7 separate regions of the Homo sapiens genome follow, and regions 1, 2, 3, 4, 5 and 6 are each linked to region 7. Evidence: fine-mapped expression QTL. A gene starts in region 7. Each other region holds a variant in brackets. All regions are shown on one strand. Distances are from middle to middle.

Evidence for each region.
Region 1: its variant is fine-mapped to the expression of GSTT2B in prostate (GTEx, PIP above 0.99).
Region 2: its variant is fine-mapped to the expression of GSTT2B in lung (TOPMed, PIP above 0.99). The same link has a PIP of 0.9 or more in hippocampus and ovary.
Region 3: its variant is fine-mapped to the expression of GSTT2B in subcutaneous fat (GTEx, PIP 0.98).
Region 4: its variant is fine-mapped to the expression of GSTT2B in esophagus muscle (GTEx, PIP above 0.99).
Region 5: its variant is fine-mapped to the expression of GSTT2B in transverse colon (GTEx, PIP 0.99).
Region 6: its variant is fine-mapped to the expression of GSTT2B in subcutaneous fat (GTEx, PIP above 0.99).

The regions. Positions count from the first base shown.
Region 1 is chr22:24,943,745-24,947,959 of GRCh38, forward strand. LHFPL7 (LHFPL tetraspan subfamily member 7) reads right to left here and starts at 2,950. Exons shown (of 4, transcript NM_001388199.1): 1 at 2,828-2,950. The variant G/C (reference allele first, on the strand shown) is at 1,929.
Region 2 is chr22:24,006,584-24,010,798 of GRCh38, forward strand. LOC105372959 (a long non-coding RNA gene) reads left to right here. Exons shown (of 2, transcript XR_001755457.1): 2 at 1-2,284. Among named protein-coding and RNA genes, the nearest start is that of CABIN1, 2.6 kb to the right of the region's middle. The variant G/A (reference allele first, on the strand shown) is at 2,463.
Region 3 is chr22:23,998,982-24,003,196 of GRCh38, forward strand. It overlaps GSTT4 (glutathione S-transferase theta 4), which reads right to left. Exons shown (of 5, transcript NM_001358664.2): 3 at 2,194-2,344; 4 at 1,094-1,270. Among named protein-coding and RNA genes, the nearest start is that of GSTT4, 4.4 kb to the right of the region's middle. The variant C/T (reference allele first, on the strand shown) is at 2,250.
Region 4 is chr22:23,927,980-23,932,194 of GRCh38, forward strand. It overlaps the pseudogene KLHL5P1. Among named protein-coding and RNA genes, the nearest start is that of GSTT2B, 31 kb to the right of the region's middle. The variant G/C (reference allele first, on the strand shown) is at 2,488.
Region 5 is chr22:23,380,894-23,385,108 of GRCh38, forward strand. It overlaps the pseudogene CES5AP1. Among named protein-coding and RNA genes, the nearest start is that of LINC01659, 51 kb to the right of the region's middle. The variant G/A (reference allele first, on the strand shown) is at 2,051.
Region 6 is chr22:23,993,288-23,997,502 of GRCh38, forward strand. It overlaps a transcript of GSTT4 not described here. Among named protein-coding and RNA genes, the nearest start is that of GSTT4, 10 kb to the right of the region's middle. The variant G/A (reference allele first, on the strand shown) is at 2,459.
Region 7 is chr22:23,958,738-23,962,952 of GRCh38, forward strand. GSTT2B (glutathione S-transferase theta 2B) reads right to left here and starts at 2,458. Exons shown (of 5, transcript NM_001080843.4): 1 at 2,283-2,458; 2 at 1,557-1,644. The coding sequence starts at 2,394. RefSeq lists an enhancer at 679-1,344.

The DNA.
Region 1 (4,215 bases), 990 kb after region 7:
CTGCCCAAGGTTAGGGCATGGTCAGCTCTCATGCCTGCCCTGCCCAGGGGACAGGGATGATTCCAGAGAAGCCATACAAAGGCAGAATCTCAGGAGGAGAAATGGGACTGGGAGTTTAGAGGTAGCTGCTAGGGACTTGATATGTCAAGCCAAGTCTCTTTCTTCTTCTGGCTTCTATGTCTTTCTCTGTAAATTGGAGGGGTTGATCAATCATTCATTCAACTTTAATGTGCCCAGCTCAATGTGATCTCTTAACCCCCTACCCCCAGGATACAGTGGTGAACAGAACGTAGTCCCCACCTTCAAAGAGCTTAGAGTTTTGCAGGCAAGACAGACCAACAAAATATAGCAATATGTCCATGTGCTCACTCATTCAACAAATATTTATTGGGTGTCTACAATGTTCCAGGAACTGTTCTAGGTCCTGGAGGATTCAGCAGTGAGGAAAATAGAAAAAGCCCCTCCTTATGGAACTTAGACTCTGGAGGGAGAGAGAGAGACAGGGAGGAAATAAGCAAGTCAATATGTAATATGTTAGATGTCAATAAGTGCCCTAGAGAAAAATGAAGCGTTGGAGGGAGATAGCAAGTGATTGGGTAATTGGGGGATAGTCATGGAAAGCCCCATGAGAAGGTGACCTTTGAGCTGAGCCTGAAGAAGGTGATGGAGGGAGCCACGTGGAGAGGTGTCAGAGGAATATTCCAAGCAGAGTGGGGAGCAGGTGCAAAGGCCCTGAGGGGAGTGTGCCCTTGGCACATTTGAAGATGCAAAGAGGCCCATGTGACTAGAAGTAATGAGGGTAGGAAAGAGCGGTGCGCCTTGTAGCAGAGATAAGGTCTTGCTCTGTTGCCCAGGCTGGAGTGCAGTGGCACAATCACAGCTCACTGCAGTCTCAACCTCCTGGGGCTCAAGCAATCCTCCCACCTCAGCCTCCCAAGTAGCTGGGGCTACAGGCATGCACCAACATGCCTGGCTATTTATTTATTTATTTATTTATTTATTTATTTATTTTGGTAGAGATGAGGTGAGGTCTCTCTATGTTGCCCAGACTGGTCTTTTTTTGTTTTGTTTTGTTTTTGTTTTTGAGACCGAGTCTTGCTGTGTCGCCAGGCTGGAGTACAATGGCGCGATCTCGGCTCACCCCAACCTCTGCCTCTCGGGTTCAAGCAATTCTCCTGCCTCAGCCTCCTGAGTAGCTGGGACTACAGATGCGCACCACCACGCCCAGCTAATTTTTGTATTTTTAGTAGAGACGGGATTTCACCACGTTGGCTAGGCTGGTGTCGATCTCTTGACCTTGTGATCTGCCCGCCTTGGCCTCCCAAAGTGCTGGGATTACAGGTGTGAGCCACCGCGCCTGGCCGCCTAGGCTGGTCTTGAACTCCTGGCTTCAAGAGATCCTCCTGCTTTAGTCTCCCAAAGTTTGGGGATTATAGGCATGAGCCACCGTGCCTAGCCTGGCTTTTCACTTGTGAGTGTGGTAGGGAGTCTATGGCTGGTCTTTAGCAGGGGTATGACATGAACCATCCTAGGTTTTCAAAAGACCACTCTGGCTCCTGGGTGGAGAACAGGCAGAAGGGAAGCAGAGGGAGAAGTCTTCAGAAGATGACTCGTCAGTCAGACAAGAGACAAAGGTGGATGTGGATGGACGTGGAGGTGGGGTTAGGGGAGGAGGACAAAGAGTGGTCAGATTCTGGATTGATTTTGAAGGGCAAAGGTCAAGCTGATCAGATTTGCTAATAGAATAGGCCTGGGGTGTGAGGGAAGGTGAACAGGCAAGGATGCCTCTAGGGCTTTTGACCTGGGACGAAGAACCTGCAGAAGGAACATGTTTACTAGGGCAGCCGGAGGTGTCTGAGTGTGAGGTTGCGTAAGCAAAGCTTGAGATGTGTATCTTCCCCAACCCATCAATCGATATATACAGGCTT[G/C]AGTACAGACACAGCTCCACACCATGAAAAAGCCTGGGGTGACACTGGGGACAAGCACAGAGGAAGGGCACCCAGTCCAGCCTGGGGGGTGCAGGCCATGTCCAGGCTGAGATGCACAGATGGGCAAACTGGGTCTGGGAAGGACTTTTATCTCTTATCACATTCTCCCGGCTATGCAGCCAGGTAAGTCCAATTTCTGGATCTATTCCAGCATCTGTCACAGATTGGCTGTGCCACCTAGGACAAATTATGTAACGGCTCTGAGCCTCAGGTTCCCCATCTACAAAAGGAAGGTCTGTGGGACTTAACCCTTTGATGCATTCCTTTGAAGATATGATTTAAAACTATGGATGTTGGCCAGGTGTGGTGGCTCACACCTATAATCCCAGCACTTTGCAAGGCCAAGGCGGGAGGATCACGTGAGGTCAGGAGTTCGAGACCAGCCTGGCCAATATGGCAAAACCCTGTCTCTACTAAAAATACAAAACTTAGCTGGGCATGGTGGCGGGTGCCTGTAATCCCAGCTATTCGGGAGGCTGAGGCAAGAGAATCACTTGAACCCGGAAGGCGGAGGTTGCAGTGAGCCGAGATCACACCACTGCACTCCAGCCTGGGCGACAGAGCAAGACTGTCTCAAAAAAAGAAAAACAAAAAAACAAAACCCCAGAAAACAAAACTATGGATGTTTCCACGTGCACTCTCACATAAGCAAGCATGCACACATGAGCGCACATGCACCCACCCACCCACCCACACACACACACACACACAATTGTATGTCATTTCAGAGGCTCATGGGCCCCCTGAAGCCTGTAACAGCCCCTGAACGTGCTTTGTGCTATCCCAGTTTCCTTCCCTCCTCACTCCTCACCTCAGGTCACTTGTCCCTCCAGACTCACCACACTTTAGGTCAAGACCCTCCAGCGTGGCCACCTCTGCTCAGGCTCCGGCTTTGGATCCACGTCTGTGACCTTATACAATTCTCCTCTCCTTTGAAGGAATAATTTAGCTTGTAGAACAATGCAAGGGCATGCTTGATGAACTGGTCTGAGGGTGTGTCTGTGTGTGTGTGTGTGGTTTTTCCTTCCCACTTCCTTAAATAAAAGCTTTCACTCCAGGCTGCTGGGTGGGCTGAGCAAAGAGGGGAAAGCCATCTCCAGGTGGGGACAAGGGGAGAGTATAGTGTTTTCTGGGTAGGGCAAGGCACCAATAGGGATTAACTGATCTATGATTAAACGCCAGGTGTAGGAAACCACAGATAGAATCTCAGGAGGAGAAATGGGATTGGGAGTTTAGAAGTGGCTGCCACTGTGTTCTCTACCTTTCTGCCCTCATAATTCCAGCCCAGGCAACTGATATGCATATTTCTGTGTATTTCTCATAGGATCTTCCCTGTGAGCTGTGGACGTCTCAAAGTCAGGCACTGTGTCTTAAATATCTTTATCCTTACCACAAAACTTGGCACAGAGTAGGTGCTGGTATTCTTTTTTTTTTTTTTTTGAGACAGAGTCTCACTGTGTCGCCCAGGCTGGAGTGCAGTGGTGCGATCTCGGCTCACTGCAAGCTCTGTCTCCTGGGTTCACGCCATTCTCCTGCCTCAGCCTCCTGAGTAGCTGTGACTACAGGCTCCTGCCACCATGCCCAGCTAATTTTTTGTATTTTTTTTTTTTTTTTTTTTTTTAGTAGAGACAGGGTTTCACCTTGTTGGCCAAGATGATCTCGATCTCCTGACCTTGTGATCTGCCCACCTCGGCCTCCCAAAGTGGTGGGATTACAAGCGTGAGCCACCGCGCCTGGCCTGGTATTCTTTTGCTATAAGTGATGGAAGCACCACTCAAATAGACATGAGAAATGTATTGGTTCACGTAACTGAAAATTCTCTGGGATGGGCTTCAGGCATAGTGGGATCCAGGTAAATAAGCAATGTCTTCAGAACCCCTCTCTCTCTCCAGCTCTCAGTTCTGTTTTCTGCTCAGTTGGCTTCACTCTCTAGGTGGATTCCCTCTAACAATATTGCCCTTTGGTGGCTCCAGGCTGACATTCCGAGACTCAGCAACCCCAGAGAAAAGAAAGCTTCTCTTTGCACACTATTGCAGCAAGTGCTGTGATTAACACTCAATGGACAAACTTGGGTCCCATGCCTACCACGAATCAATCACTGTGGCCAGGCAAATGGGATGCTCTGATTGGCCAGACCTACATCCTGTGTCCTAGGGTTGGGGGTTAAGGTTTGGAAAGTGAGGATCAAGTAAGGGTGTCGCGAGGCTTACCGCCCTTGAAACGACAT
Region 2 (4,215 bases), 48 kb after region 7:
CCCAATCCAGGTGCTGCAGGGCTGGCATCAGCCTCCCCAACAGCCGCTCCAGCTGTGCAGCATCTGCAGGCTGTCCGGAGAAGTGGGGCAGGAGAGACTGGGCTGGGAGGAGAGGAGCAACTTAACCCAGACTCTTGGAAGCCTCTTGGGCCTCCTCTCCATCCCTTCCCGGCTGCCACTCATTAGTGATGTCCTCTGGGGCTCTGTGTTCAGAAGGTTTCTAAGGATTCATTCAGGCTTAGGGGAAGGAGTACTGTGATAGATTAGTTATGTCTGCTGAGGACAGTGGAAGTGAAGCTAATATGTAATATGTACCAACTGGTGCCTTCCATCTCTGGGGGTCCAGGCCCCTGCCCCAGCCTGCATGACAGGGCCTAGGAAGCTCACCTTGCACAGGTAGACATTGGTGGCAGGCAGCTGGATGGTGACATGCTTCCACGCCAAGTACTCATCCACGCAGGTGCGGGCTTGCAGCTCAGGTGGGTACCAGTGTCCCCGTATCTGGTACTTTCGACTCAGGTATAAAACGATGACCATGCTGTGGGCAGGGGGTGTCAGAGATCTTTTCTCCAGCCTGTCAGGGCCAGGTGGCTTCATTGCTCATACTCAGGGTGATTTGACCAGGTTTTCTCCCCACCTTCACCTTCAGGGGAGGACCTCCCCTATACTGCAACTCCCTCCAGGCAGTATCTCCCCACGACCAAACCACTCTGTTTCTCCATTTCCAACTCTGATCCTCCCTGGGCCCATGTTTCCACCTCCCCTCCCAGTTACCATACCATCCTGCCCTCTGTGCCCAGGCCCCACTCCCTGGCATCAGGGTCCCCACTCAGAGTGCCTGCCGTGTGGGCCCTGCCCAAAAGGTCTCCAAGTTCCCTTCCTAGTGCCCCAGAACACTAGGTGCCCATTTTCTATCCTCAGGTAAGCCCTGGGAGGTGGATACATTATTCCTCCCACTCCGTTTTACAGAGGAGAAACCTGGCACACAAAGTTCTGTGATTTCCCCAAGGGCATGGATTGAGGAAGTGGTGAGCTGGGATTGAATGTGGAGTCTCCCCTGGGTCTGCCCAGCTCCTAGGACTCTGAAAGGATGAGCTGGGGACATTTGGGGAGGAGCCAGCCTCAAGCCTGGGCCTTGCCCGCTGGCTTCAGGTTGTCCAGGTTTATCCGGGTGACCTACGTCCTTTCCCCACCTGGGCAGCTCCAGCTGGCTCAGACTCTAGCCAGGTTCCAGCCTCCAGCTTTAGCCCAAAGGTGCCCCTGGGTCCAGCCTCTGCATCGGAGCTACACAGGCTGAAATGAGGAAGGGGCCTCAGTGATTTGGAAAGATCTCCAAGCCAAGGAAAGATCTCCCCTCTCGCCTCTGCCTCCCCCTACAACTCTGAGCCCCAGAACCCAGGCAGATCCTGGCTCTGACCCTGGGTGGGCACCAGGTCACCATTACCTCTTTGCTAGTAGGAAGTCGCCATCTCTGAGGGCAGGCACCTTCCCCAGGGGGTTCACCTTCAGGAACTCAGGCTTCAGGTGCTCCCTTGGTGGGCAGAAAGGAGAGAAGGCTCAGTGTAGGGCCTGGTCCTTGGCACCCACTCCATGGGGCCCAGCCCAGCCACCTGGCTCACCCCAAGCCAACTCCACCATCCACAGCTCAAAAGGGATGTCATTCTGTCTTGCAAAAGTGGATAGTGTGTCAGGTCCAGGAAGAGCTCAAGCCCCATTGCTGCTCCTCTCACCTGCCCTCCCCAGAATTCTGGACCTCCAGGAGTTGCTCAGCCCTTCTCCACTAGTTCTGAGCTGTTTCCTCTCCATAGTCTGCTGTAGTGGGCCAGAGCACAGGGCAGATTTGTCTTCAGGGACTTTCTCTGGGCATTCCTGGGCAGAGAACTTCATCTTCTCTGTTAACTCTTGCTGATAATTCTCTGTAGCTAGGCACCTTGTAAAACCCATGTCCCAGAATGCCAAACCTGGAAATGCAATGTCAGCGCCGAAACTGCATTGAAACTGAATGAATGAGGTCCCCACCCTCTTATCTAAATATCCTATCAGTCTGTTGAATGTCAAAGTATGTAGGGGTGGTGTGGGGGAGCCTATAGGGAGTCTCCATTTCTGTAGCTTTCCACATGTTCCATGCAGAATTTTCCTCTAATGACCCTTGGACACCGTGGTGGTCACTGTTTCCCTGCATAAACCTTTGATGATCCTTATCTTTAGCGTACCAGTGAAACACCAAATTCAGATTTTCAGTCTGTGCAGTCTATGTAGTTAATAAAATCAATTTCTAATGGAATATGCCTGTGCCTGGTGTGTTTGTACCTAACCACTGCTAAGGACTTTCATTGATAGCTAGACCTTGGAGTTCCTTCCCCTGGACCCCTGACCCAAGTATTTTGCACTCATTCCTCTGCCAGTGTGTTTCATGGTGTCCTGCTTCCCAGAGTGCCTCAGGGAATGCTTGCATTGGATAT[G/A]AATGAATCGTTGCGGTCACCATGGATGGGATTCAGGCCTAACTCTCACCAAGACCATAAGGCCACAGTCTTTGATATAGATTCCCCATGTTAAATCTGCCATCCTCAGTGTAGTGAGAGTGATATTGAGAGAGAAAAGTTAGGTAATTAAGGTGGGTCCTTGGTAAAACTCCTTTAAACAGAGGAACAGCCTGAAAAATCAGGCTTCAGGCACAGATAAGGAAACTTGCACAAACCTCTGGCTCACTCAGATAAAGGAACAATGCCCAACACAGAAACACCTTTGATCTTTGTGCCTAAGGCATGCCCACAGCTACTTTGATAAGGGAACAAGACCCAGCATAGAAATGCCTTTGTCCTTTGTATAACCAGTGGGCTTCCAGGAAATAGTCTCTTCTCCTTTTGTGGACATGTACACGGTGGGCTACAGTGGGTTCCAGTGGGCACTTTCCTTTCTTGGACGTGCTTTAGAATGTGAGCCTCTGATTGGTCCTGGGCCAGGCTATCACTTCAGCTCCTGATTGGTCCCTCAAGGTCCAGGGGCCAAGCTGAGTAGTGCTTTCTCCAAGACCAGTCAGTACATTCCTTCCTTTCCCAGTCCATAAAACCCCCTGACCCAGCCTCATAATGGGCAACCTGCTTGGGCCCCCCGCCAGCTGCAATGAGCTTTCTTCATTTGCTTATTAAACTTTTGCTTCAACCTTACCCTTTGTGTCCACACTCCCTAATTTTCTTGGTCGTGAGACAAAGAATTCTGGGTGATACCCCACAATGAGAGACTGGTACATTGTGGTGCACGGGCAAGACTGCAACAATATGTTTTCTGCTTGCTTGTTTGGACTGGCCTCTTCCTAACTCTCCAGAGTGCTCTCTCCCCACTGTGGCCCTGAGCTTTGCCTCACGGTAACACTGTGCTGCATGACACTCCAGCATGATCTGCATGTTTCTCACCTCCGGACCTTCCCCACACAACTTTCTTGCTGCTTGGACCACCCTTCCCACCTATTTTCAACTGTTTCTCTCCAGCGCATCTTTCATGATAAGGCTTGAGTGGAAGCTGTATCCGAGGCTGAAGGTTATCCATGCAGCTTTGAAACCATCTGTTTATGCTTCTGTTTACCCCCCAAATACTGTTTACCCCAATACTCAAAGTCAAGGTTGGTGACTCAACAATTTTCAGAACTTCTAGCTTATCAGTATAGCTTTATTGTACTGAACTGAGTTTTTCACCATGCTGTTACTGTCTTTGAGGTTAAAAAGCCCCCAACATTCACTCCTATTTGAATCATCTGTGCAAGACTCAAGCAGCTATGAATTCAACCACAGTGTAAAGTTCTTCCCTACAATGCTTTATTGTTATTCTAGCTCCCAAGAGAGTACCATCTTTCAGCCCAAGACCCTTGACAGAACCCCTTCAACTCTGTCGCCTTTTTTCATCTCTGGAATTCTGACACCACCCATGACCCCTCTTCTTGTTCATTTACTAGGTTTTGTTCCTTTTTTTCCTTTTGTTTCAATATCCTATTGTATCTGTTCCTTTTGGGCTTCACATCCTTTTTGGAAAGAGAGGCACAGGTAATATAATGAATGAGGATGCTCCTCCTCCCTGGTTCCCTCTAAGTCAAGTTTCTCCAACGCGCTGGTCTGCTTGGCTTTGAATGCGGCTCAACACAAATTCATAAACTTTCTTACAACATTTTGAGATTTTTTGGTGATTTTTATTTTTATTATTTATTTATTTATTAACTTATCA
Region 3 (4,215 bases), 40 kb after region 7:
AGAGGGCTCCTGGCCCAGGCACTTCCCACTTCTCCAGCCTGCGACCTCGCATGAATCCTGCCTTCTTCCAGGGAGACCCCTTATCCCAGGTGTGTATATGTGGATGAGGGAGAGAACTCAGGTTTTTTCCTCCATGTTTAGCCTCCCACTGTGATCAAGCTCAGGGGCTAGGATGGGAGACCTGGCGGGCAGTCTACCCTGCAGTTTCGCTGGCTTACTAAGAGTTTGGTTTGCACCCAAGATCTTTGGGAAGCCCAAGAATGGGTGTGTGTGGGTGAAATGTAAGGGGTGGGGACGAAGCATATGGCTGAACCCTTGGGGCAGGCCAGAATGATTTTTCCTGGTGCTGGTCTGCCCTGCAAACAGACCAAGGAGACTAATTTTCATATCAGCCAGAGATCTCTGGGATAAGGAAAAGAATACTGCATTTTCTGGTCAATCCACCAGGACCCCAGGTCCCTCCTCTCGGGCATATCTCTGGCTGATATGCAAATTAGTCTCTTTGGTCAGTGTGCAGTGCCCTAGCTGGTGTGCAGGATGGCCAGTTGAGACCCTGGCCAGTGTCTTGACAAGCAGAACTGGTCACCCTCCCCTGCATGTAGAGGCCACATAAATGCCCCACACTCAGGTGTGCCTCCAAATGCACAGTGGATGCCCCTCAGACCCAGCCACGAGAGCTGTCCTCCAGAGCTGTCTGTCTGGAGCTCTGGGAAACAGGCAGGGCCAGAAGGACACCCAGGAAGCCAGTGAACATTTCCTGGAGAGTCCAGCAAGAGGAGGAGGTATCTGGGATGCCGGTGGATTGAGCAGGAAATGCAGTGTTCTTCTCTATCCCAGGCTCACCCTCCGGGTCCTCCCACACCGAAGAATCTTTGTCAAGTGTGGAGAACTGTGATCCTTCCTGATTCATAACATTCTGTGCTTCCTGTTGCCCCGATTGAGTCCAGGCCCCCAGGCCTGGTTCCCGCAGCCCCCATGGCAGCTCTGCCTGCCTTTCCCGCCTCACCAGCCTATCCTCAAGTGATGGCCCCATTGGTCACAGAGGAGTCCTACCTCTGCCCAGGGTCTAACCCTCCTCCAATCCACTCCACACCTGCATCATCTCCACCACGGCCACCAGGTCAGCCAGTGAGATTTGGTTCCCGGTGATGAACATCTTATCCTGCAGAAAATACTCCTCAAAGAGCTGCAGGCTGTTCTTCACCTCTTCCACTGCATGCTCCATCTTCTCAGCTGAAACTTCCTCCCCTGTTATCTTTGGGATCAGCAACTGGCCAGGGTTGGGAAGAGGAGGGAAGAGGAGGCTGCACTCCAGGGCCACCTGCCCTGCCAGGTCTCTGTACTCTTGTCTGCTGGATAGATATTGAACACTTCCCAGGATATAAAGCAGTTTCACCTCTTTTAGCAGTTCTGATTGGTGGAAGTTGCTGGGAACCATGTGTTCACAAGGATTTGGGGAGCTCAGCAGGCATAAGTCCTGTGATTGATTAGTGATGTCTGTCACAGGCATAGAATTCAAAGTAGAGACACATGTACTGGTTATTTGTCATCTTCTAATTTTCTATAGGCCATACTCTTTTTTGTTTTTGTTTTTTGAGATGGAGTCTCACTCTGTCGCCCAGGCTGGAGTGCAGTGGCACAATCTTGGCTCACTGCCAACTCCAACTCCTGGGTTCAAGCAATTGTCCTGCCTCAGCGTCCTGAGTAGCTGGGATTACAGGTGCCCATCACCACACCCAGCTAATAATTTTGTATTTTTAGTAGAGATGGTGTTTCACAATGTTGGCAAGGTAGGTCTTGAACTCCTGACCTCAAGTGATCTGCCCGCCTCGGCCTCCCAAAGTACTGGGATTACAGTTGTGAGCCACCGTACCCGGCCTTCTGTGGGCCTTTTGACGCTGAGATTCTCTAGTTCAGAATGAAATGCCTCGAATGCTGTCCTGGGTGAGTCACATCAGCCCCTCCCGTATGCCCTTCCCCTCGCCCTAATAAGACTCTTTCATGCCCATTGTTTCAGTCCACACTCCTGACGGCTCTGTAAGGCGGGCAGGAGAAGGAGCTGAGGAAATGAGGCCCAGAGAGGGAGGGAGACTTGCTTGAGGTCGCCGGCAGTCAGCAGGGCCAGAACTGGCCTCCAGCCTTCCTGACTTCCCTGTGCCCGTGTCCCCAAGCCCCAGAAGTGGCCCTGCTCACCTTGAGCCAGACTATCTTCTTCATGGGCAGCTGAAAGGCCGTGTGTTGCCAAGCCA[C/T]GAACTCATCCACACGGGCACGTGCGTGCGGGTCTGGCGGGCACCAGTGCGATGGTGCGCTGTACTTGCGGCACAGGTAGTAAAGGATGGCCGCGCTGCAGAAGGGGCCGGTCAGGGGCACTGCCCTTGCCTTCCTGAGTGCCACTACATCAACCACCCCGGTGTGGCCTGGGCCCAACTGCTGGGGCTTCCAGAGCAAAGAGGAGCCCAAACGGCCCCGAGAAAGACCTTCACCAGAGCTGTCTGTCTGACAGTCAGTAAGGGCTGGGAAGGAGCCCTGCGGGGTGAGTAGGAGTTGGGGGCTGGTGGTATAACAAAGAGTAGGCCAGCAGGGGGAACAACACGTGTTGAATTGGGATGCTGAGGTGGGAGGATCACTTGATCCCAGGAATTTGGGGCTACTGTGAGCCAAGATCACACCACTGCACTCCAGCTTGGGTGAAAGATCAAGATCCTTTTTCAAAAACAAAAACGGGGGGGCACGATGGCTCACACCTGTAATCCCGGCACTTTGGGAGGCCAATGGGGGCAGATCCCTTGAGGCCAGGAGTTGGAGACCAGCCTGGCCAACATGGTGAAACCCTGTCTCTACTAAAATGAAAATACAAAAATTAGCTAGTTGTGGTGGCACACACCTGTAATCCCAGCTACTTGGGAAGCTGAGGCACGGGAGTCACTTGAACCTGGGAGGCAGAGGTTGTAGTGAGCCAAGATTGTGCCACTGTACTCCAGCCTGGGCCACAGAGCAAGACTCTGTCTCAAAAAACCAACAAAGAAAAACACATGCTGAAATACGAGGGTAAAGGGAGCAAGGTAAATCTGAAGAAAAGAGAGTAGGGGGTTGCAACTGGAAGAAGGGTGGGGGTGATTGGGGAGTGATGAGGCAGCCAGAGACACTGTGGAGTCCACGTAGGGTAGCCCCTGGAGGTGCAGGGAGGTTATGGACTTAATGCTTAAGATTAGGCATTATATAAGCCAGGGCATGAAAGGATCCATCTCTCTGGTGCTGGATGGAGGGTGAGCCCGAGGGGGCAGAATGGACAATGAGGGGGCCAGCAACTATCGGGAAGGTTGTGGTGTCTGGGAATGTTGGAGGCCATGGGGACAGAGGGAAGGGGATGGAGGGGAGACATGCTTCGGAGGGGATGTCCTAGGCCTTGCTGATTGATGGCTGGTGTGGGAACCTCCGCAGAACAAGGGCTCCTTTATCATCACCAGCAGCAACCATGCCAAGGTAAAAAGGTCAGGGCATGGAGAGAGCTATCGGTTAAAAAGTGGCAGGAGAGACAGCAACTGGCTGCAAGACTCAGAACTTCTTGGCTGGGCACGGTGGCTCACGCCTGTAATCCCAGCACTCTGGGAGGCCGAGGCGGGGGGATCATGGGGTCAGGAGATCGAGACCATCCTGGTTAACACAGTGAAACCCCGTCTCTACTAAAAATACAAAAAAATTAGCCAGGCATGGTGGCGGGCACCTGTAGTCCCAGCTACTCAGGAGGCTGAGGCAGGAGAATGGCGTGAACCCGGGAGGCGGAGCTTGCAGTGAGCCAAGATAGCGCCACTGCACTCCAGCCTGGGCAACAGAGCGAGACTCCGTCTCAAAAAAAAAAAAAAAAAAAACTTCTTTGGATCCTGATCCAAACAAACTGCCAAGAAAATGTTTAGGAGATAATCATAGAGTTTTGAACAGGAGCCACATATTAGATGAAATCCAGGAATTATTGTTAATTTTATGAGGTATCTTAATGGTATCGTAGTGATGCTACGCTCTATCCTAGCCCAGGCTGGAGTGCAGTGGCGCAATCAGAGTTCACTGCAGTTCTGAACTTCCTGGCCTCAAGCGATCCTCCCGTGTCAGCCTCTGGAAGTGCTGGGATTATAGGCATGAGCCACCACACCCAGCCTGTTGCTTTTTTTTTGTTTGTTTTAAGAACTCTTATCTCTGAAAAGTATGTTCCTAAACATT
Region 4 (4,215 bases), 31 kb before region 7:
TTTTTGGGATAATATAGAATGTCAGAAACTCATTATGGAAGCAATGAAGTACCATGTATTACCAGAGAGATGACCCACGTTACAAAGTCCTCAGGCAAAATCTAGGAAATCAACTGTTGGTACATTATTTGCAGTTGGGAGAATGGATTCAACAAAAGGAGCAACAAGCATTGAAAAGTATGACCTCTGTACAAATACATGAACTCCAGTAGCAAATATGAATGAGAGGAGGCTACAGTTTGGTGTCGCAGTGCTAGATGACAAACCGTATGTGGTTGGAGGAAGAGATGGACTGAAGACTTTGAATACTGTAGAGTGCTACAACCCCAAAACAAAAACAGGGAGTGTGGTGCCACCTATGTCCACACATAGACATGGCCTTGGTGTGGCTGTACTGGAAGGTCCCATGTATGCCGTAGGAGGGCATGAGGGCTGGGGCCATCTGAACACAGCGGAAATTTGGGACCCTCAGGCTCGCCAGTGGAATTTTGTTGCCACTGTGTCTACTCCTAGGAGCACAGTTGGTGTGGCAGTGCTAAGTGGAAAACTTAATGCAGTTGGTGGTGGTGATGCAAGTTCTTGTCTCAAATCAGTAGAATGTTTTGATCCTCATACTAGTGAGTGGACTGTTGGTAGAAGAGCTGAGGCAGGACTGGCTTGTCTGTCATAATGTAAAAGAGTCTTGAAAGATGTCCGGGGTCCACGGCCTAAAACCCCTCATGGCCTTTGGTACACCAAGCTCTGTGCCATAGGGTGGAAGGCTGCCCTGCCGCAACACAAATCTAAGCCCAGGGCATAAAACCCCGTGTGGCTTGGATGGAACCCAGGGCTCAGGGCATAAAACTCCTCATAGCCTCTGGAATGTGCACAGACTTGTTGGTTCCTTGCTTCTTACTCGTAAACATGTCCTCCATTATCTCAAGTAGCAGAGCATATTCTACATGCATCAAAGGAAGTGCTAAGCTGTCACAGCTACGCTTAATGCACCACTAGCTTTCTATCCCCACGTTCTCATGCCCTCACCTGTTTACCCTCACATCCTCACCACCTGCTTCTTTGTTTGATCACCAATAAATAGTGTGGGCTCCCAGAGCTCGGGGCCTTTGCAGCCTTCAATCTAGTGCCGGCCCCCCGGACCCACTTTATGCACTTTTAACTTATCTTTTCACATTCCTCTGACCCCGCCAGACTTTGTAGCCCCCACGGCCTGGTGTTAGGCCTGATCACCCCAACATGGACACTGTGTGCACGGATGTCAAAAAGGAGAGGTGGCATAGGAGTAACGACCCGGAGCGGACTGCTGTATGCTATAGGGGAACATGATGCTCTCACATCCAACTTGACTTCCAGACTCTCAGATTGTGTGGAGACATCTGATCCCAAAACAGACATGTGGACTACAGTAGAATCAATGAGCATCAGCAGAGATGCAGTGGAGGTCTGTTTACTTGTTGATAAGTTTTATGCTGTTGGGAGGTATGATGGACAGGCATACCTGAATACAGTGGAGGCTCATGATCCCAGACAAAGAGTGGACCCGGGTTGCTCCACTGTGCCTAGGAAGAGCTGGAGCTTGTGCTGTGACTGTAAAATTATAATTTAGTGCTCTGTTTTCTACATGAAGACACTCTCTTCCTTTATTAATTTAGTACAATTATTCTACCATCAATGGATGCATTTTTAGTAAACATGCATTGCCACAATCCTGGGCACAAAGTACCTGATCTCAAAGCAAAGATAGTAAAACAACGGAGGAAGGAGTGGATGGACCAGGATTAATTGCTTTCAATTCTTAGTAAATGAAAACCTGCAGCTGGTGGATTGTGAACAAACATTCCTGATGTAACATATTAGGACAGATGCACTGCTCTGGAACATAGCCCAGTGCTAGCTGGGGATCTCATTTATTCAGTCAAGCACATCTTACTCATGCGGGTGGCAAGCCACCCAGGTGCCGAGGCAAGAAACCGAGGGCACGAGCTGTTCCAGTATAATAAAATATATAAAATAAGAATAGTTATACTAGATATAGATCTTAGATATGATTATATATATATCATTAATCATTAGTTTGCAGCAATTATTCTTTATTCCAATATTATAATAATTCTTGCTCTACAATCATAACCTAGGAAAAACCAGGCCATACAGAGATAGGAGCTGAGGGAACATAGTGAGAAGTGACCAGAAGACGAGTGCGAGCTTTCTGTTATGCCCGGACAGGGCCACCAGAGGGCTCCTTTGTCCAGCAGTAGCGCCAGCATCTGGGAAGATGCCCGTTGCCAAGCAGACCCTGGTCTAGCGGTAGCGTCAGTGTCAAGGAAAAACACCTGCTACTTAGCAGACCGGGAAAGGGAGTCTCCCTTTCCCCAGGGGATTTTAGAGAAGACTCTACTCCTCCACCTCTTGTGGAGGGCCTGACATCAGTCAGGCCCGCCTGCAGTTATCCGGAGGCCTAACTGTCTCCCTGTGATGCTGTGCTTCAGT[G/C]GTCATGCTCCTAGTCCACCTTCATGTTCCATCCTGTACACCTGGCTCTGCCTTTTGGATAGCAGTAGCAAATTAGTGAAAGTACTAAAAGTCTCTGATAGCAGAAATAATGGTGTAAGCTCTCTCTCTCTTTCTCCTCTCTCTCTCTCTGCCTCGGCTGCCAGGGAGGGAAGGACCCCCTGTCCAGTGGACACATGACCCACGTGACCTTACCTATTATTGGAGATGGCTCACACTCCTTACCCTACCCCTTTGTCTTGTATCCAATAAATATCAACACAGCCTGGCATTTGGGGCCACTACCGGTTTCTGCATCTTGGTGGTAGTGGTCCCCTGGGCCCAGCTGTCTTTTCTCTTATCTCTTTGTCTTGTGTCTTTATTTCTACACTCTCTCATCTCCACACATGAGGAGAAAACTCACTGACCCTGTAGGGCTGGACCCTACATACTCATATCCAGATTTATTTTCTTACAGTGCAAACACACCAGATGGAACTTCTAAAATGTTGCTTTCTATAAGTTTATCATCTATGAGTTGCAGTAATTTGTTTGTTTGCTTGTTTGTTTAACCACAATCACTATTTTAATGATATACTAAACATAATACTATTTAGTTTTTTCAGAAACATCGGCATTGTATGTGTGTTGGTTGTGGATTTTGTTTCTAAAATTGGCTTAGTCCAATAAAGAAAGAAAAGCATTAAAGACTTAAAGCAATGATAACCAAATACAACCTTGATAAAATCTTTGAAGTCTATTTAAATATTCATTCCATTACATCTAGACTCACCAAAAACTGTATGTCATGATATTCTTAAGTCGAAGTTGAAACATGATGTTTCACATTAAATTTAAGATATGCAGCTTGGCGAGGTGGCTCATGCCTGTAATCCCAGCACTTTGGGAGGCCAAGGCAGATGGATCATGAGGTCAGGAGTTGGAGACCAGCCTGGCCAACATGATGAAACCCCATCTCTACTAAAAATGTAAAAATTAGCTGGGCATGGTAGTGCACGCCTGTAATCCCAGCTATTCAGGAGGCTGAGGCAGGAGAATTTCTTGAACCCAGGAGGCAGAGGTTGCAGTGAGCTGAGATTGTGCCACTACACTCTAGCCTGGGTGACAGAGTGAGACTCCATCTCAGGAAAAAATAAAATAAAAACAAATAAATTTAAGATATGCAAATTTAAATAGAGAAAATAAACGTTATATACCCTATAATGTTATTTCACCTAATTAGTACTTAATTATATGGATTTATTTTATATTATAAAAGATGTTTTGATTTTTTCTTTTGATATTGACAACATTGTTTGGATATTCTTATGTTGTCAAGGCTGCACCTGCCTCCCCTGCCTTATTTCTTATGTTTTGCCACAGTTAACCCATTGTGCTTCTTTGTAATCAAACGGTTTGGGGAGGGGGGAGAAAGGGCTTACTGAATGTCTAAAAAAACAAGTTTAAAGTGTTTGTTACCCAAAGTTTGGTGCATTTGTAAACTCTAATTACATATGTGAATGTTAATACCCTCAGTGAATTGTTATTGTTTGCAAAAATGCACTGGGCAGTAACATTTTGTGATAAATCCTACAATGCAAGATATAAGTAAAAGAAAATACTTATCATTGTGTTACACCATGTACATTATTCAGTATACTAACATGCTGTATGGGTTTGTAGCCTAGGAGCAGGTGGGCTACACAATATAGCCTAGGTGTGTAGTAGGCT
Region 5 (4,215 bases), 580 kb before region 7:
TGACGGAGGTGTGGTGATGGTGATGGAGGTAGTGATGGTGATAGTGATGGTGATGGTGGTGGCGATGGAGGTAGTGATGGAGGTGGTGTTACTGGCGGTGGTGGTGTGGAAGCGGTGATGGGGGTGGTGATGGTGGAGGTGATGGAGGCTGTGGTGGTGATGATGGTAGTCATGGTGATGGTGGTGGTGGTGATGCTGGTGATCATGGTGATGGTGGTGGTGGTGGTGATGGTGGTGGTCAAAATAGAGGTTATGTGGTGGTACTGATGGTGATGGTGATGGTGGGGATGGTGAGGGTAATGGTGGTGGTGATGGAAGTTGTGGTTACAGTGATGGTGTTGATTGTGGTGGAGGTGATGGTGCTGGTAGTGATGGTGGTGGTGGTGGTGGTGGTGGTGATGATGCCGGTGCTGGTGGTGATGGGGTGCTGGTGGAGCTGGCCATGATGGTGGTTATGGCCGTGCTCATGGTGACAGTGGTGATGATGTAAATGGATTCTCCTCCTGGAGTTTCCTGGAGAAACAACTTCTCTGCTTCCCCAGGGCTGCCTGGTCCCTCCCTGCCTGGGGGTGGCCCCCAGAGGCAGGAAGAGCAGAGCGTGGACTGAGCCTGACAGGGCAGTCAGTATCTTGAACTCACAGAGAACATTTAATCTTAGTTAAAAGTAAATAAGTTCATTTACTGGGAGGGGAAGAAGGGCCCAATATTTACTGCAAGCATGTGGAGTGATTACTCCAGGAGGTTCCCTTGGGATGCCAGGCTCCATCCCCACTCCTGTCAGGTTCACCTGTGGCAGGTGGGAGGGAACGGCATGGGCCCACCCTGCCCTCGGGCCCCCAGAGGGGCATCTCTCTTCTACCCCCCACGGCAGGGGCTGCAGGGTTGGCAATGCCCCCTTCCCTCCCTCAGCCCCCAACTCTTGGCAGGGCCCTGGCCCACGGACCCCTGGATTCTTGCATGTGGGCACACCTCAGCCCCTGGCAGGACACCCCCAGGCCCTCACTGGCTCTGTTGCTCACCTGCTGTGTGACCTCAGGAACCCTGCCCCTTTTTGAGCCCCTGTACTCACCTAGGAAATGGGTGATAAAGGCACGTGCCCCCGGCGGGGGATGGAGGTTGGTGCTGGTGGTCAGTGTTCCCATGACAATGACCTATTGGCTGTGCAGAAGGTGAGCCTCATCTTCCAAACTCAAGGAGTCCTTCATGAGCACAGCCCTCAGCCACCGAGATCCCCCAAACTCCCATAGTTCCCGAATCTCCACGGCCAAGTGCTGAGACAAGAGCCCTGGGGCTCAAGGCCCCTCAGGCAGGGTGCGGTGAGGGCCCGTCGGAGGAAGGGCTTCCTCCTGCCCATCCTGGCTGGGCGCTGTGCGGGACTGCAGGAGCCTGAGTTGGGGTAAAAGGAATTTCAGGGGAGACAGTCAGATCCAAGGTCAACTGCCCAGCTCAGCCCAGGACTCCAGCCTCTTGCAACAAGATGGGCCAGGCCCCTCGCTGGAGTCTGCTCAGCAAGGGGCCTGTGGGTCCCTGGGCAAGCACTAGCCGGGTCCTACCCTCAGCCTGGGGCCTCCTTCCAGCCTCCTCCCTGGCGCAGCCCAGCTAGAGTTTGTTCATTTCCTGGGGGCTCCCGCCTCCCCCTCCCCTGGCCCTGCACTGCGTGAGGGCGCATCTCCTAGAACCAGCCCCCCAGAGTCTGCTGAGATTAGGAGACCTGGAGGTTACCCCAGGGACACCCTGCCCCTGTGCCCCAGACAGGTGTCCCCCCCACTATGGGTGATGAATGTCGAGGAGCTGCCATTATAATTAGTGTGGAATGTGCCGCCTCTCCCAGGGAGGAAAATCCCATCTTGGAAATACACCTCAGATGCAAGTTGAATTTCACCCACGGGGCCATAAAACCATTTTTTCAATCACCTGGTGCTGTTGGGGGCTGGCACCATTAATCCTGGAGATGTTATTTAGAGCCAAGACATCACTTGGGGAAAAAAATCAGGTCCGCACTCCATGAGGAACCCCTCTCTATGCCCTGCAGAGGCCTCAGGAGATGGAC[G/A]AGACTGCTCGGGCACCAGGCAGGGAGGGGCAGGGACGCAGCTACCCTCACAGCCACCCTCACGGCCCAGGAGCCATGCCTCACTTCATCAGCTCCTGCCAGACCCTCCCTACCAGAGATGGCCCCATCGGCATAAGGGAAGACTGAGGCCAGAGAGGAATGGAGGAATTGGAGGGCTGGAACAGCTGGTGGGCTGGACGGCTCAGCTCCACTTGCCCTGCCTGCCCCCAGCAGACACTGCCCTCCTCTTCATTCCCAAAGCCCCCACCCGGCCCAGATCCTCTCCTGAGATCAGTATCATCCAACAGCCTTTTATAAAAAATTGTTTCCTTGATTACCGAGGGTAACAATGAAAACACGTAATTGAATCTCCAAGAAATTACCATTTTTATAACTTGCGCCCAGTTCCCGAGATAAATTAAACGCCTCCCCTGTATGGTGAGCCGCTCACTGCGCATCAGAGAGGGGCTGATACTGCCCTTTATCATCGATGCGGGACTTACTAAGAAGAATGCCTCACACTGCCTCCCGGGAGGCTCCTGGCACCTCCAGCTCATGGCCCTGAGCGGGCAGAGTTGGCCAGCTGGAGGCGCCGGGCGGGTGGTCAGGTGGGCCCCCTCCTGATCACTCCTGGCCCTGTTACTGGCTAGCTGCGTGGTGGTGTGGGTGGTAAGTGGGAGGGCCAGTCAGAATCTTAGCCCAGACTCCCAAGAAAATCAGGCCTGTGCGCAGCCGGGCAGCGACAGCTTTCTGAGAAGTGCAACCCTGGAGCCAGAGTGGGGAAAAGGCAGGGAAGCCGGGTAGGAGGAAGGAAGTGGAGATGGCAGAGAGGGAGGATTTACCCACCTGCCCCCCACTTGCTGGCCAAAGCTGACCCCACCCAATTGCGCCAGTGCCCAGAGGACCCAAGATATCACAAGGTCAGGCAGCAGAGCGGCTCTGGGGGAGGCGAGGCCCCGCTGAGGCAAGGCACCGCCTGGCACAGGGTCCGGGAGCAGGTGGGGGCAGCAGGGTGGCCACACCCACCCAAGGAGCTGCTGGGTTGGTCAGCAGAGGGGCGGGGAGGTGGGGCCAGCTACCGGGATGGGCTGTCCATCTGTGAGCAGCTGGTAGTGGGTTTCCTGCTGGCAGTTGCTAGTGGCTGGATTCTCATGGCTCTCTGGCTGGCTGGAGGCCGTTTGGGTTGTGGGGAAGCAGAAGCCTCCAGCCTGTGGACTGAGTTTCCTGAAAATGTCTGCAGGCTGCACTCAGCAGAGCCAACTTCAAGCAAAGGACCCGAGTGACACTATTCACGTGCAAACCACCGCCCCTCCCAGCGTGGCTGTTTGCCTGAGGGCCCAGAGCCACCCCCTGGGGAACACTGCCTAGTCAGAAACCTGGCAGTGGTGGCTGCACAGCGAGGAGGGGTGCTGTCAGGGGACAGAGGACCTGCTCCCTGGGAACGGGAGAACTGAGGCCCAAAGAGTGGCCTCCCACTTGATCTAGGCAAACTCAGGGTCAAGGGCAACAGGCTGAGGTCACCAGGAGCTCAAAGGCTGGCTCTGAAGGTGAGACCTTCTTCTGAGGAAGCAAGTGGCCTCAAGCAGCACCCTCTGGCAGCCGGCCCAGAGGACTGGAGTGGGGTGGGCCGGGAGGAACATCGTTCGGGACGGGGTGGGTGCCTACACCCACAACTGTGCTCCTGCCTTCTCTCCCTCCCTGGCCTGGTTCCCGACTTCCCAGGGTCCCCTCCTGCCCCCACGAGGCCCTGCCGCCCAAGGGCCTGCCTGGATGCTCCAGTGGGGCTTGAAACCCCCACAGTCAGGCAGCAGACCGTGACTTCTCAGCTGTGTGTCCTGGACAGAAGCAAAGGAGGCCCCAGAACCTCTCATCGCAACTCCAACCAACATGGGAATCCAGGGCTGCAGGGGGCAGCCTGCCTGGGGACAGGGCTGGGCTCAGACCCCAAAGCCCAGGGTCTGCAGCCATCCCAGTCCCATTCCACAGAGCCTGAGGCACCAACCTCAACCTACTCCCAGCCCCACTCCCACCCCATGCCCCAGATCCCCCATCCCACCAGAATACACCCAGCCCACAGCCTGGCTCCAAGGAACAGGCTTGTCGGGCCTGAGGGCCTCCAAAAGGGCTCTGTCTCCAGGCCCGGAGGAGAGCAGAGGCCCCAGCCC
Region 6 (4,215 bases), 35 kb after region 7:
TCTAGCCTCAAGAGACCCTCCTGCCTTGTCCTCCCAAAGTGTTGGGATTACAGGTGTGAGCCACTCTGTCCAGCCTCAAACTGTGGTCATTAGATCAGCAGCAGTAGCAGCCTTGCCTGGGAGCTTGTTAGAAATATACTAACAGGCTCCCACCCCCAAACCCAGACCTACTGAATCAGACAGAGTTTATTTTCATAAGATCCTCAGGTGATCCAAATGCACCTTAAACTTTGAGGAGCTTTGATTCAGAACCTGGGCTGGAGGCCCCTAGGGGCCACCTTGTTCCTCACAGACTGCAAGGTATGTTTTTTTCTTGCCTCTTCTCTCTGTCCCAATGTCTCCTTCTCTCTGTGTCTGACCCTGAGGACCCTGTGACATCCTCCCAGGGGAGTTTCCACTGCCAAAGGCCTGATTCTCTAGAAACTGATGGGCTCCTCTAGACACCAATCTCTACCTGGGCTCTTGTTGAAGAAGCCAATCAGCTCATTGGTTGGCGATCACGTGATATACAACATGGCTGCCTTCCAAGCCTTATGTGTGGACAAGGAGATAGGGACAAGTAGGCATATCATGTTCTGATACCTGGGCCATCGTCTCTCCTCAGGCCCCCAGGATACACGTTTATGGGGAGTTTTCCTCCCTTCCCCCAATATGGTCACTCATAACTTTACACCCAACAGTCAAACAGGGGTGGAAGCTACAGGGTTTCATGTAAACAATAGGCTAGGCTGTGGGGCTGAGTAAAAGGCACTGGACTGTGGTAGGTCTTACTCCAAGATGGCCAAATGGAAGGGCTTTTAGCTTTCTTTGTTTTTGTTTTATATTTTGAGATATAATGTTCAAATTTACACTTCAGAATAAAAAAGAGCCACAATTTATGCTTCATATTTTTTGTAGCTTCTTCCCTATGCTTTTGAACAATGTAATCATATTTTCATTATCAGATATAATTCCCATACCATAATATCCACCCTTTCAAAGTATACTTTAAAATTCAATTGGTTTAAAGCCAATTCAGTGGTTTTTAGTATATTAACAAAGTTTTGTCACCATCACAGTTATCTAATTCTAGATCATTTTCATCACCCAAAAAGAAACTCTGTACCCAATAAAGAGTCACTCCCCATTCCCCTCTTCCCCTAGCCCCTGGTTACCATTCATCTACTTTCTACCTCTGTGGATAGGAAGTAGCTGCCTATTCTGGAGATTTCATTCAAATGTAATAATGAAATATGTGGCCTTTTATGACTGGCTTCTTTCATTTAGCATAATGGTGTCAAGGTTCATCCATGTTGTAGCATATAACGGTACTTCATCCCTTCTTATGGCTGAATAATATTCAATTTTATGGACTTTTTAGCAAAACATTCTAATTTTTACTTCTCTACTGTGCTTATTGTTTGTCTTTCTCCACAACAATGTGAGCACTAAAGGCAGACATTTTTGCCTATTTTGTTCACTACTGCTTTTTCTGCACCAAACGCATTGCCTGGTTGTGGGTACTTTTCTAGTTTTAGGAAGGAGAAGACAAGATATAGGTCCTGACTCTGGTTCTGCCTCTCATTCATATGCTACCCTTCCCCTTGAAGAACTTGTTTCTTCATCTACAAAATGGGCATAATACTACTACTCATCAGGGTGGTTGTGAGGATTAAACAAGGTAAGAGATGTAAAATTGCATGTTAGTTATCAGATAGATTTGTGTTCCCATCTAGCTCCAATGAGGGAGAGGATTTGCTCTAGTCTGTCCCTCTGGGCTCTGGGCTTCTAATGGGCAGACAGCTTCCTCCATGATGTTTGTAGCTGTTAAGGCTGGCGTAGTCCCTCAAGACAAGTTTTTTTTTTGTTTGTTTGTTTTTTTTTTGAGTCAGAGTATCGCTCTGTCACCAGGCTGGAGTACAGTGGTGCGATCTTGGCTCACTGCAATCTCTGCTTCCCGGATTCAAGCGATTCTCCTGCCTCAGCCTCCTGAGTAGCTGGGATTACAGGCATACGCCACCACACCCAGCTAATTTTAAGACAAGCTTTTGGAATTGAACTGCTGATGGTCTTCCATGAACAATTCAACAGAAACCCAGTAGCGTACACTTCCTTGTATGCACTTGCACCCTCTCTTTACATTTATTACACATTTAATGCTACCTAATAATTCCCTATACTTTTACTTTATCCAATCGTTCAACAGATTCCAACCGAAATACATAGAAGAGTGATATTCCAACTTCATCAGACCCTGAGATTCTATTTTTAACATTTCTTCCATGGATTGTTGAATGTTTCCAATGATTGATCCACCTTCCCTTGGCCTTTTCTACATTACAGATTTGGTGGCATGTCCATGTCTATGTTGCCAAACTTGCCTCATAGACCCAGCTTGAACACAAGATGGGTGCTTGCTGAAGAGCAGGACTCATTCTGTTGAACCTGCATGTTTTCTCAGGTCAGATTGCTTGGTGGC[G/A]CTTCTTTAATTTCTTTCAACAGCACATTGTAGTTTGCTGTGTTGAAATGTTGCTTTTCTTTGGTTAAATTTATTCTATTTTATTCTTTTTGATGGTATTATAAATGGAAGTGTGGTTTTAATTTTGTTTTTCATCCTTTATTGCAAATGTATACTATTGATTTTTGTGTATTAATCTTGTACCCTGCAACCTTGCTGAACTTATTTTATTTTATTGAGATGGAGTCTCAGTCAGTCACCCAGGCTGGAGTGCAGTGGCTTGATCTTGGCACACTGCAACCTCCACCTCCTGGGCTCTGGTGATTCTCCTGCCTTTGCCTCCTGAGTAGCTGGGACTACAGGCATGCGCCACCACGCCCGGCTAATTTTTGTATTTTTAGTAGAGACGGGGTTTCACCATATTGGACAGGCTGGTCTCAAACTTCTGACCTCATGATCTGCCCGCCTTGGCCTCCCAAAGTGCTGGGATTACAGGTGTGAGCCACCGTGCCCAGCCTTGAACTTGTTTATTAGCTCTAATGGTTTTTAAGTGAGTTAAGAATTTCTGTAATGTCATCTGTGAATAGAGATGGTTTTACTTCTTTCTTTCTGATCTAGATTCCACCTTGTTCCTTTTTCTTGCCTAATTGCCCTAATAAGTAGAAGTAGTGTGAATGAACATTCTTGTCCTGTTCCTGATCTTAGGGGGGAAACGCTTGATCTTTCACAATGGATGAAGTATGGTGTTAGTTATAGGTTTTTCATAGATGCTTTTTGTCAAGTTGAGGAAGTTCCTTTCTCGTCTTCATCTGCTGAGTAATTTTATCGTAAAAGGATGTTAGGTTTTGTCAAATGCCTTCTGTGCATTAGGATGATCATGTGACTTTCTATTAACATGGTATGCTACACTGATTGATTTTTGTATGTTGAACTGCATTTGTACTCCTGGGATAAATCCTACCTGGTCAAGGTGTATGATCCTTTTAATATGCTGCTGGATTTGATTTGCTAATATTTTGCTGAGGATTTTTACATCTATATTTATAAGGATATTGCTTTGTAACTTTATTTTCTTGTAATGTCTTTTTCTGTCTTTGGTATCAGAGTAATTCTGGCCTCATAGTATGAGTTGAAAAATATTTCTTCCTGTTTTATTTTTTTGGAAGAGTTTGTGAAGGCTTTGTGTTAGTTCTTCAAGCTTTTGGTTGAATTCACCAGGGAAGCCATCTGGTCCTGGGCTTTTCTTTGTGGAATTTTTAAAAATAATTAATATTTTAATCTCTTTATTTGTTACAGGCCTATTAAAATTTTATCTTTCTTCTTAAGTCAGTTTTGGTAGATTGTGTGTTTCTAAAATTTTCCCATTTCATCTAGGTTGTCTAAATTGTCCACATATAGTTATTCATAGTATTTCTAAACTTTTGAATTTCTCTATGACCAATGTGATGTCTCCATTTTCTTTCTTTCTGGTTTCCATTTCATTTTTTCATTTTTGTTTTTGTTTGTTTTTTGAGATAAGGTTCTTCTATGTGCCCAGGCTGGAGTGCAGTGGTGCAATCATAGCTCGGTGTAACCTTGAACTCTTGGACTCGAGTGATCCTCCCACCTCGGCCACCCAGTTAGCTAAGACTACAGGCTTGCACCACCACACCAAGCTAATTTTTTTAAAAAATATATTTTTTAGAAAAAAGTCTCATTGTGTTACCCAGGCTGTTCTCAATCTCCTGGCCTCAAGTGATCCTTCTGCCTCTGCTTTCCAAAGTGCTGGGATTGCAGGT
Region 7 (4,215 bases):
CACCAGGCATTTACCCCTAACTGCTCCCATCTGCCAGTGGGGCCCGGGGGCTTCTCTGCATTTGAAGGACTGCCCTCCAGCCTCGCCCTCCATCTCCAGCTCCCCAACACCACCCCCTCCTCCTACGAGTCTCCTCCTGTCTTTGTTGCCTTGGGCACCGACTCTTGGCTGGACCTTCTGCTTTGCATTTTGAGAACCTCATCTCTGTGATATGCCAGCAGCCGCCCTGTGAGGTAGACACTCCTGTTAGCCTTTTAGCACAAGAGAAAACTCAAGGTCAGAATGGTCAAGTGACTTGTCCGAGGCGGTGCAGCTCAGAATAGGCTCCCTGGACCCCTGGAACCCTGCATGGGGCTGGCACACAGTGGATGCTCCGTGGAGTCCCTTGCATGTCCACGCGCTTGGGTCAGGGATCACGAGGGGAGGAATGTCTTTGGCCCCCGTCTGACAGGCCCCCAGCCATCACTTCTGCAGCCACCTGACCTCTTGTCCTTTTCCTGCCCAGCAGCTGGACCTCACCATGAGCTGTGCCCTTGGGCCATGGCATTGGCCTCTAGGCCCGGCCTGGGTAGATTGGGTAGTCTGCAACAAGTCACTAGAGGCTCTTTTCAGCTAGCATTTGTTGAACAAATGCGCAACAGTGGAAAAATGTTCCCTTGTCTTCTCTTCTAATACCCTTCAGTCTGGGAGTGGAGAGGCCCTGCGGCTCAGAAAAGGCTGGAAGATGAGAGGTGGGGGGACATGTTCTGTCAGCCCCTGCTCATCCCGGTCACACCCCAAGCTGTACCTTCTCCCCAGATACCTCTCCTTTCTTTCTTTCCTTTTTTTTTGAGACGGAGTCTCCCTCTGTCGCCCAGGCTGGAGTGGGCTCCCTCTGTCACCCAGGCTGGAGTGCAGTGGTGCTATCTCTGCTCATTGCAAGCTCCGCCTCCTGGGTTCACGCCATTCTCCTGCCTCAGCCTCCCCAGTAGCTGGGACTACAGGCGGCCGCCACCACGCCCTGCTAATGTTTTGTATTTTTAGTAGAGACAGGGTTTCACCGTGTTACCCAGGATGGTCTCGATCTCCTGACCTCGTGATCCGCCCACCTCGGCCTCCCAAAGTGCTGGGATTACAGGCGTAAACCACCGCGCCCGGCCTTTTTGAGACGGAGTCTAGCTCTGTCGCCCAGGCTGGAGTGCAGTGGCGCGATCTCAGCACACTGCAAGCTCCGCTTCCTGGGTTCACACCATTCTCCTGCCTCAGCCTCCAGAGTAGCTGGGACTACAGACGCCCGCCACCACGCCCGGTTAATTTTTTTTCCATTTTTAGTAGAGACGGTGTTTCACGGTGTTAGCCAGGATGGTCTCGGTCTCCTGACCTCGTGATCCGCCCGCCTTGGCCTCCCGAAGTGCCGGGATGACAGGCGTGAGCCACCGCGCCCGGCCAGATCCCTCGCCTTTCCCCTCCCTCGCTGCCCCATGGGGTATGGGAGGGCCACTGGGGCCCGGGGCCAGTGGGGAGAGCCAAGGTCACATGGGCTCCGGATGCGGTGAGGGGTGAGGGAAGGAGGGCACCTTTCGGTCAAGATGAAATCACCATCCTTGAGCGTCGGCAGTTTCCCCAGGCTGTTGATCTGCAAGAACTCCTTGCTCTTGTGCTGCCCTGAAGAGGAAGAAGTCAGAAAAGGTCTTCAGAATAAAAACGCTGCACCTCTACACCCTCCCTCCTCCTCCCCAAGCGGAGCCCCACAGCCCTGAGAAACAGCAAGGTCTGGGACTAGAGGCCTGGATCAGCCTCACTCCCTGGCTGGGCCTCCCTGCCCTGCCACATTCCGGGGCAGCTGGGGGGCTTTGGTGGGTGGGGCCAGGTGCAGCAGGTGGATAAAGAGAAGTTTTCTAGCCGGACTCTGGTGGGCCAGGGGAGGGGAGGCAAACTGGGGTGGCTCATCTCTTCCCATCTCTTAATTCTCACAACAGCATGTCCTTCTTCCCAAGGTCTTCTGGGCTTTGTGAATTTATATGCGTGCATTCCACGCAAGAACTCTGTCAACTCCATTCAGTATTTTCTTTCCATCCCTACAGAGCAGAAGGTAACATTATCCTCCTTTTCAGAAGGCAAGCTAAGGTTCAGAGAGGCTGTGATCCCTCCAAGGCCACTCAGTCCACAGCATTCTCTGGTGGCAGACGCTGCAGGAGGAGGTGAGGGGGCTGTGCGGGCGGCGAGACGCTCAGGGCAGAGCAGGGCGGGGGCCTGGGGGTGCACTGGGTTTGTGGACACGCGGGGAAACGGGCTGGGCCCACCTTTGACCAAATCCACGGTGCGCAGCTCTAAGGGGATGCCATTCTTCTTGGCGAAGATGTAGACGGCGCGGCTGGGCTGGGACACCAGGTCAAGAAACAGCTCTAGGCCCATGGCGGGGGCGGCAAGGACAGCGGGGATGGCAGTGAAGGCGCTGAGCGCGGTGTGGGCAGCAGCTGTGGCAGGATCCCGGCGCGCCGGGAAATAGGGGATCAGGCCCCACCCCCTGGGGACAGCACCCAATTGGAGCGCACCACCCCCGGACCCGCCTCGCCCCTTCGGTTCCTGTCCAGTCCTGCCGGCCAAGACTCCACCACCAGATCCGTGCGTCCCTACAGGGAGGGCGGTCGCTATGAACGCACAGCTGGGAGGGTGGAGTTGGAGCTGGGGACCCTCGACTGGCAGGGAGGACGCGGATGCAGGGGGCCGACTGCAAGGGGAAGGGGAACCGGCTGGACAGGGAGAAGCAGGTCTGCTTTTCGGGATCCCGGTGCCAGGGACCCTGCCCAGTTCCAGGCGTCGCCCTGACCCAGAAACGACTGGGCGCCGCCGTCCTGGAAAGGCCCCAGCGCACGGACATCTGAGGGTTCGTTCAGAGCTCTGTTTCTCGGCGCTGCATGGTGGCGGAAGGGAGGGAGCGAATGGGATCCCCTAAAAGGGATCTTAGAGTTTCACCCAGTGGGATGTGACACTTGCAGGTGTCCCAAACTGGTGGGAACCTTGACTGGAAGGCTGGGGTTAAGGATGAACTTTCTGCCGTCCAGACTGTCCCCTGCAGAGCAGCTGCTGCCAGACAGCGGGAGCTGCCAGACAGCGGGAGCTCCCACTTCGTGCACAGGATGGGGGCAGGGAGCCCGCAGCCGCGGGAGGCAGGAATGACTGTCCGGGAACCTCCTTTCTTCTCCCTGAATCCCAGCCCTGGCATCTCACCAGGGGGCACAGTGATGGTCCAGGGCTGGGCCCGGGACTCTAGCTGAATCTTTCAGAGTATCCCATCCCTCTGGCCAGTGGCCCAAGCGAGTGAACCAGAATGCTTCCTTGGGAGTTTTGAAACTGGAACTGGAGAGAGGAGCTCCCTATGGGGAGGTAAACGGGAGCTGGGGCCACCTGTAGTGACATTTCCTGAGTTCGAGGAGTAGACGAGACTGAGAGAGAAAAGCTGACTCAGAGAAAGGGAGTGATAACAGGGCATGCTGGCCCACACCTGCAATCCCAGTTACTCTCACGGGATCTGTTTCTCTGATGTCTGGGTATGAAAGGACTTTCTAAGCCTCAGAACAGTGGGAGAACTCAACAAAGAAAAAACCAATACATATACAAGGTTACTTTGTGGAGGAAAAAATGGATTAACCTTAAGCAAAAAACTGGGAAGGATCTCGGTAAAAGATACGTCAGAAGGAAGTAATGTCCTTTAAGATGTTCTTAGAAACCCATCAGACAGGTAGGGTGTGGTGGTTCACGCCTGTAATCCCTGTACTTTGGGAGGCAGAGATGGGCGGATCAGTTGAGGTCAGGAGTTTGAGACCAGCCTGGGCAACACGGTGAAGCCCCGTCTCTACTAAAAATACAAAAATTAGCTGGGTGCGGTGGCACACTCGGGAGGCTGAGACAGGAGAATCACTTGAACCTTGGAGGCAGAGGTTTCAGTGAGCTGAGATCATACCACTGCACTCCAGCCGGGCCACTGAGCGAGACTGTCTCAAAACAAACAAACGAACAAACAAAAAGAAGAGAAACTCATCAGACGAAGACACAGGAAAAAAATGAGCGAAGGAAATCAGCAGAGGTTTCATTGAAGGACAAAGAGAAATGGTCAATACATGGATGAAAACATGTTTAACTTCAGTAATAATCAAGGAAGCACACACCAACACAACATGCACATACTGTTTTTATTTATCAAAGGCACACATATTTTTGAAATGAGTACTCCTA